Homo sapiens: one gene and its partner. The protein of the gene in region 2 purifies or fractionates together with the protein of the main gene of each other region. This does not show direct contact. Each region holds a gene or a part of one and is shown on either strand. Other genes may lie near its edges.

The links. Proteins that work in one complex are often made in the same cells at the same time.
Region 1: the proteins of TMEM130 (region 2) and RHOBTB3 purify together in Homo sapiens (affinity purification with mass spectrometry; one large-scale study listed by BioGRID and IntAct). This does not show direct contact.

What each region holds. Positions count from the first base shown.
Region 1 is NC_000005.10:95,793,599-95,796,861, forward strand, and holds the end of RHOBTB3 (rho-related BTB domain-containing protein 3), read left to right. Parts: 3' UTR 1-2,763; downstream 2,764-3,263. UniProt on the Homo sapiens protein: Rab9-regulated ATPase required for endosome to Golgi transport. Involved in transport vesicle docking at the Golgi complex, possibly by participating in release M6PRBP1/TIP47 from vesicles to permit their efficient docking and fusion at the Golgi.
Region 2 is NC_000007.14:98,863,335-98,867,178, forward strand, and holds part of TMEM130 (transmembrane protein 130 isoform b precursor), read right to left. Parts: intron 67-3,844; coding exon 1-66.

The DNA.
Region 1 (3,263 bases), on a different chromosome or scaffold from region 2:
CTAGGGGAAAACCAATCAGTCCAACATGAGATTTTAGGAATAGAAATTTGCCGGCCATTTGGAAAGTGAAATGCCACTTAGTTCTCAATTGATGACAGTGTTTGAATCATCATAAAAAAAATACCTGCTTTTCATCTGGACAACCCAATTGAGCCACTTTATCTCCTTTTGGCAATCTGAGTAGGCGGGGAACCTAGGCAGGGCTGGCTTTCTTAGCGTGTAACTTGTGTAGCAGCACAGGGCCCACACTTAGAAGGACCCCACACTTGGTTCAAGGCTCTGCTATAGCGGAAATTCTTAATAATGTTTGAAGAAGGGCCCCATGATTTCATTTTGTGCTGAGCCCTCAAAATTATGTCTGTTTCGTGGTGGGAAATATCCTATGTTTTCTTGCTCAAACACCTTTCTCTCTGAAAGCAGAAAAAGGCACTGATATAAAGGGAAGAGAAGGAGGCTCACCGGAGGGAAGAGAACATAGTGAAGATTCCCGCCTTTGGGGAGGTCTGGACCACCCAGGGCCTCCACTGCCACCTTGGCTGGCAAGGGAGAAATGTGTTGTGTTGTCTTAGCTTTAAAACAGTCACAGTTCTTGCTCTATCATAGATGAACAAATACTTTCTTGATCATTCTGTAAGACCAGGAGGTTGGTAAGAGTGACTAACCAGCCTAACTTTAATACACATGTATAAAGATGTTCACAGAGAAAGATGCTCTGTAGAGAATTTGCTACCGAAGTTGGCTCAAGAATTTGTTTTTAGTGTTATTTACCAAGATTAGGACGTCAGTGGCTTAAATTCTTTGAATTCTTTTCAAGGACTGCAAGATTATTTGATAAAGAGTAGCATGAATCTTGTGCTCTAATATTACACAGTAAGTTCAAAGAAAGGATGTAAGTCAAAGACTTGTTACATAGAGGGAAAATGGACTGGGATAGAGGACAGACTGATAGTTTCTTTCTTTCATATCACATGTATAGAGAAATAATTATATCAGAAACTCACAAACCTAGACATGGAAAAACAGATTACTGTCTATTGTCAGCATCATTTTCATCTGTAAGTCACTACTGGAATATATTTTTCTTTTAATTTCCAGTGACTTTAGAATACACACAGTTTTTCCGACTTTTCAAAAATTTGATTAAATGGTTTTATAGTATAATATTGGGACCCCATACCGTTAGCCCTTGTATGTATACCAACACTGCCAAAGTAAAACATTAGGTCAGGCATGGTGGCTCAGGCCTGTAATCCCAGCATTTTGGGAGGCTGAGGCAAGTGGATAACTTGAGGTCATGAGTTCGAAACCAGCCTGGCCAAAACAGTGAAACCCCGTCTCTACTAAAAATACAAAATTAGCCAGATGTGGTGGCGCACACCTGTAATCCCAGCTACTCAGGAAGCTGAGGCAGGAAAATCGCTTGAACCTGGGAGGTGGAAGTTGCAGTGAGCCGAGATCGCACCACTGCACTCCAGCCTGGGTGACAAGAGCGAAACTCCATCTCAAAAAAAAAAAAAAAACCAAAGTGAAACACTAAAAATTCCCTATAGATATATTCCAGGAAATATTTTAATTGGGCTGATTTTAATTAGGCTGTATCATTGATGATTACTGGAATCGATTTTATGTCTTTTGTATTTTAATCACTTGAGTTAATCAACCACTGGCAAATCCCATTTGACAAAGATTAGCATTGTAAAAAACAGATACTGTGGTAGATTTCTAGAAATTCATTCACATTTAAGACTTCTAAAATGGAATAATAGCCTTTTGTTTTTCATGAGCATATTCGCACCCCTATATGAATTACAGCATTTAAAGTTCAAAATCAGTAACTTTTAATCTAGGAAATTGAAAAATATTAAGTTGCAAAGCAAAAAAAGGTATTTTCTTGAAAATACTATTTAATGTTTAACTAGACTATAGGTAGTTCCTTAAGGTTGTTTGACCTGAAGTGGAGTTGGGTTTGGAAGCTGGTGCCCAGTTGGTGTGGAGTGTGTAGTTTTGTTATGAAAGTTCTCTACCACCTACCTGTGTGAGTGACACCAACATCCAGATGTCACAGCTCTCCAGAGCTAGTCAGAAGAGAAATCAAATTAGTGTTTAAACCCATTTGCATATTGACTTGTCAGTACCTTTAACTCAATTTAATATAACAAGAAATCGTAAAATACTTATAACCTATCTTAGAGAAATGAGTGCTGGTTTTGAGAGTTGTTTTTTAACTGAAAGATTATTTCTAGATGGGTAGTGCTTTGTGCTGGTTTCTGCTTCCATATATTTCCCAGTCATTTTAATTAGAGAAGATACTCTATGGTAGAACTAAGGCCTTTCCTTTCTTGGCCAAAGTCTTTACCCTATTTAACCCTTTGTATATTTCTGACTGCTCACTGTTCATATTATAGGGGACCAGATTTGTAATATAGAATTCTCCATAACATGAATGAAATTAATTCTGTCCAAGCCAGCATGGTGGCTTCATATTAAGTAGTAACAGAAGTCTGAACAATTGGATAAATTTGACTTCCAAGACAGCTAAACTTTTCAACTGCAATTTTAAAAACTACACTACACTGTTATAGTTAATCTGACAAAAATGTCCTCAAAGAGTACTTTATTTTATTTAAAGCATCTGTTTAATTCAACCTTTAATAATTTTGCAAAGAAGGGTATGTGTGTATTTTAATATAGCCTGACCTGAATTTATATGTTTTTAGCTTTAGTATTTAACTTTTTGTAACAAATAAACCTTTTTTAAAACAAGTTTAACGAAGTGTCCTGTAATTATTTTACCTTGGATGTTGAAATACTGAAATGATTTGGAGAATGCTGCCTTGTATTTCTCAAGCATAATTATGCTTCATAGATAATTTTCATTATGTGTAAAATATCTAGAATGTTGCTGATACTATAGCTGACTAATATGTGTGGTGAGATAAAGAAATTTATATTATCTTTAAAAGTCAAGACCAGAATTTATCTCAGCAAAATAACTGCCTTTATTTAGAAAAATGCTTTGATAATTAAACATAGAAGTGAGCCCCTTGTAGGCTTGAGTGTTGTCTGGGACCAAGGCTTGGGAAGTGGAGAAGCTGCTCTGATAATAGATGGAAAAGAATTTGGAACTTCCCAGGGCTGAGGAGCCCAGGTAGGGAGGGGAAAGAGACAAGGCAGCCATACCATGAGAATGGATGGTGCATGGAATGATGCAGTCCCTCCCCAGCAGGTTCCCAAATTTTCAGTAAAGCCTACTAAACTCATGA
Region 2 (3,844 bases):
CCGAGATGGTCACCACCGCTCCCGTGGTGGCAGGGCTATCGGTGGTGAGATTGAGTTCATACAGGCCTAGGAGCCCAGAAACAAAGACTGTGTTTCAGAATGGTGTGTGGCAAGGAGCCCCACAGCCACCTCTGGGCTGGCATCAACTATTCTATTTCCCAGGTGGAGAAACTGAGGCTCAGGCAGCTCAAGTGACTTGCCCAAGGGTCACTCAGCCAATTCGACATCAAACCTGGGTCCCACTGACTCCAAATCACAGTCTTTTCAGTCTTATTTCCCCTTCCTTCCTTCCCTCCCTCCCTCCCTCCTTCTTCCTTCCCTCCTTCCTCCTTCCCTCCTTCCTTCCTCCTTCCCTGCTTCTCTTTCTTTTCTTCCTTCCTTTCTTTTTCTTTCCTTTCCTTCCTTTCTCTTTTCTTTTCTCTCTCCTTCCTTCCTTCCTCTCTCCCTCCCTCCTCTCTTTTTTCTTTCTTTCTCTTCTTTCTTTTTTTCTCCCTTCCTTCCTTCCTTTTCTTTCTTCTTCCTTCTTTCTTTCTTCCTTTCTTCCTCTCTCTCTCTCTCTCACTCTCTCTCTCTCCCTTTCGTTCTCTGGATCTCACTCTGTAACCCAGACTGGAGTACAATCATCACAGTTCGCTGCAGCCTCCACCTTCTAGGATCAAGAGATCTTCCTGCCTCAGCCTCCCAAATAACTGAAACTATAGGCACACACCACCACACCCAGCTAATTTTTTATTTTTTGTAGAGATGGGGGTCTATGTTGCCCAGGCTGCCCAAATTATATTTTGTTTTTCCTGCCAGCCGGGCAGGGCCTTGGTTAGTGGCTACTCTTCTGGACAGGCCACACAGAGAACATTTCTACCATTCCCCAGAATTCTTTTGGTTTTGTTTTGAGACAAGATCTCCCTCTGTCATCCAGGCTGGGGTGTAGTGGCATGATCATAGCTCACTGCAGCCTCAAACTCCTGGGCTCAAGTGATCCTCCCACCTCAGCCTGCCAAGTAGCTGTGACTTGTAGGTCCAAGTCACCACGCTTGGCTGATTTTTTTCTTTTTTTTTTTTTTTTGTAGAGACAGGATCTCACTATGTTGCCCAGCCTGGTCTCGAACTCCTGGCTTCAACCACTCCTCCTGCCTTAGCCTCCCAAAGTGCTGGGATTACAGGCATGAGCCAGCGTCCTCAACCACATTGTCCAAAGATCTACTGGACAGTGCTGGTCTCATGCCTCTGGATTCCTCCTCTCCTCACTCCTCTCTCTCTGTCAGGGTTAAAGGATCCAGCTGTTGGCCAGGCATCATGGCTCATGCCTGTAACCCCAGCACTTTGGGAGGCCGAGGTAAGCGGATTACTTGAAGTCAGGAGTTCGAGACCAGCCTGGCCAACATGGTGAAACCCTGTCTCCACTAAAAATACAAAAAATTAGCTGGGTGTGGTGGTGCATGACTGTAATCCCAGCTACTCAGGAGGCTGAGGCAGGGGAATCGCTGGAACCCAAGAGGCAGAGATTGCAATGAGCCGACATCGAGCCACTGCATTCCAGCCTGGGCAACAAGAGTGAGACTCCGTCTCAAAAACAAAAGAAAACAAACAATAAAAACACTTCCCTGTACCTCTCACCCCCTCAGCTCTTTCCCGACAGCTGAGTCCACTGTTGTCACAACTCCATGTGGAAATGAAAGTTTCTTTGCCTTTCCTGCTATGCTTCAAACTCGTTTAGAGCAGGGGTCATTTCCATCATCCCTGTGACCAGCACAACGCTTGGCACATAGCAGGTGTTTGGTACTGCTGTTGCCAAGGGGCACCCGGAGAGCAGGTGCAGCAGAGGGACCAGCCCACCTGGCCCTGCCCCAGGAGACTGTTCACCCAGGTGGCACTGACTGAGTCCCTTCCATGGACCCCATCCCTACCGTGTTGGGAGGATCCAGAAATACAGAACAAGCCCCTCCCTGGAGGGACCTCACAGGAGACCTGCTGGGCTTTCAACAAGAAAGGCTGGCCAGGCGTGGTGGCTCACACCTGTAATTCCAGCACTTTGGGAGGCCGAGGCGGGCGGATCACCTGAGGTCAGGAGTTCCAGATCAGCCTGACCAACATGGAGAAACCCCCGTTTCTACTAAAAATACAAAATTAACCAGGTGTGGTGGCATGCGCCTGTAATCACAGCTACTCGGGAGACTGAGGCAGGAGAATTGCTTGAACCCGGAAGGCAGAGGTTGCAGTGAGCCAAGATTGCGCCACTGCACTCCAGCCTGGACGACAAGAGCGAAACTGTCTCAAAAAAATTTAAAAAAAGAAAGGCCAACTATTTGACCTTGTGGTTTTCAACTATTTCAACTATTTTACCTTGTTTTTCTTTCACAAATTTTCATTAGATCCCTTACCCTCTCTCTGCCACTCTATTATGAGGGGGGAGGGGGATGAAAACTGTTGGATAATATTCAACCCCGTTAGCTGCCCACGTCCCACCTGTCCCTCAACAAGTCTCCAATCTGGGTCCTTTTATGGTTCCCAAAATGTGGCAGAAAGGTGGGTGCTGGCCTTCTGGCGATGGGGATGTGGGGACAGTAGATGCACGACCGAGTGGGCACAAGGTCCCCCCACAAGTCCCCCCAGGAACCTGTCAGCTCCAGGTCCATTTTGGGAAATCACTCCTGGAAGAAATAGCAGCCTGGCCTCCTGGGCTCTAAAATTGCATCTCGGTCAGGCACGGTGGCTCATGCCTGTAATTCCAGCACTTTGGGAGGCCGAGGTGGGTGGATCACCTGAGGTCAGGCGTTTGAGACCGGCCTGGCCAACATGGCGAAACCCCGTCTCTACTAACAATACAAAATTAGCCGGGTGTGGTGGCGAACGCCTGTAATCTCAGCTACTCGGGAGGCTGAGGCCGGAGAATTACTTGAACCTGGGAGATGGTGGTTGCCGTGAGCCGAGATTGCGCCACTGCACTCCAGCCTGGGCAAAAAGAGCGAAATTCCATCTCAAATAAATAAATACATAAATCAAATAAAATCATATCTCCCCAAAGCCAGCACCAACAGGGTGGAAAACCCCTCTAGATGAGGCAACATTTTAAAGTAAAAATGCTGCCCATCCCGTGTTCCCTGGGGGCTGGGGGTTGTGGCACGATGACTGACCCTGATACATCCCCATGTCCCTGCCTCGTCCTCCCCTCCCTTAGCAGGTACATGGTCCCCAGACATCTGACGGATGCGTGGGCCACCCTCGTGTGGTTTCCAGGGCAGGGCCAGCCCGGGGAGTAGAAGCAGGAATCGAGGGGGCAAGGGAAGCCCCTTCTAGTGCCCAGGCAACTCTGAGATTATTTTTTTCAGACGCATCTCATTCACTTCAAAGCAACATCACCTGTCCCTGTGGGGGACTCCAGCTCCGACCTTTCCTCAGGCCCACCTCACACGTTCGCTGCTTTGGCCCACATCACGTATTTCCTTTTTTTTCAGAGCCATTTCTTAAATTATAAAGGCATTTGAGGCCGGGCCCAGTCAGCTCACACCTGTAATCACAGCGCTTTGAAGCCAGAGGGTCACTTGAGCCCAGGAGTTTTAGATCAGCCTGAACAACACAGCGACACCCATTCTCTACAAAAAAAAAAATTTAAAAATTAGCCAGGCATGGTAGCGTGCACCTGTTGCCCCAGCTACTTGGAAGGCTGAGGCAGGAGGATCTCTTGAGCCCAGGGGTTTGAAGTTGCAGTGAGCTATGATGGCGCCCCTGCCCTTCAGCCTGGGCAACAAAGTGAGAGACCCTTTCTACAAAAATAAATAAATAAAAATCAAGTCATTTGAGTCAAGATGCCGAGAGCTGGTCACTTCCAAGGGAATGCTGGCATTGA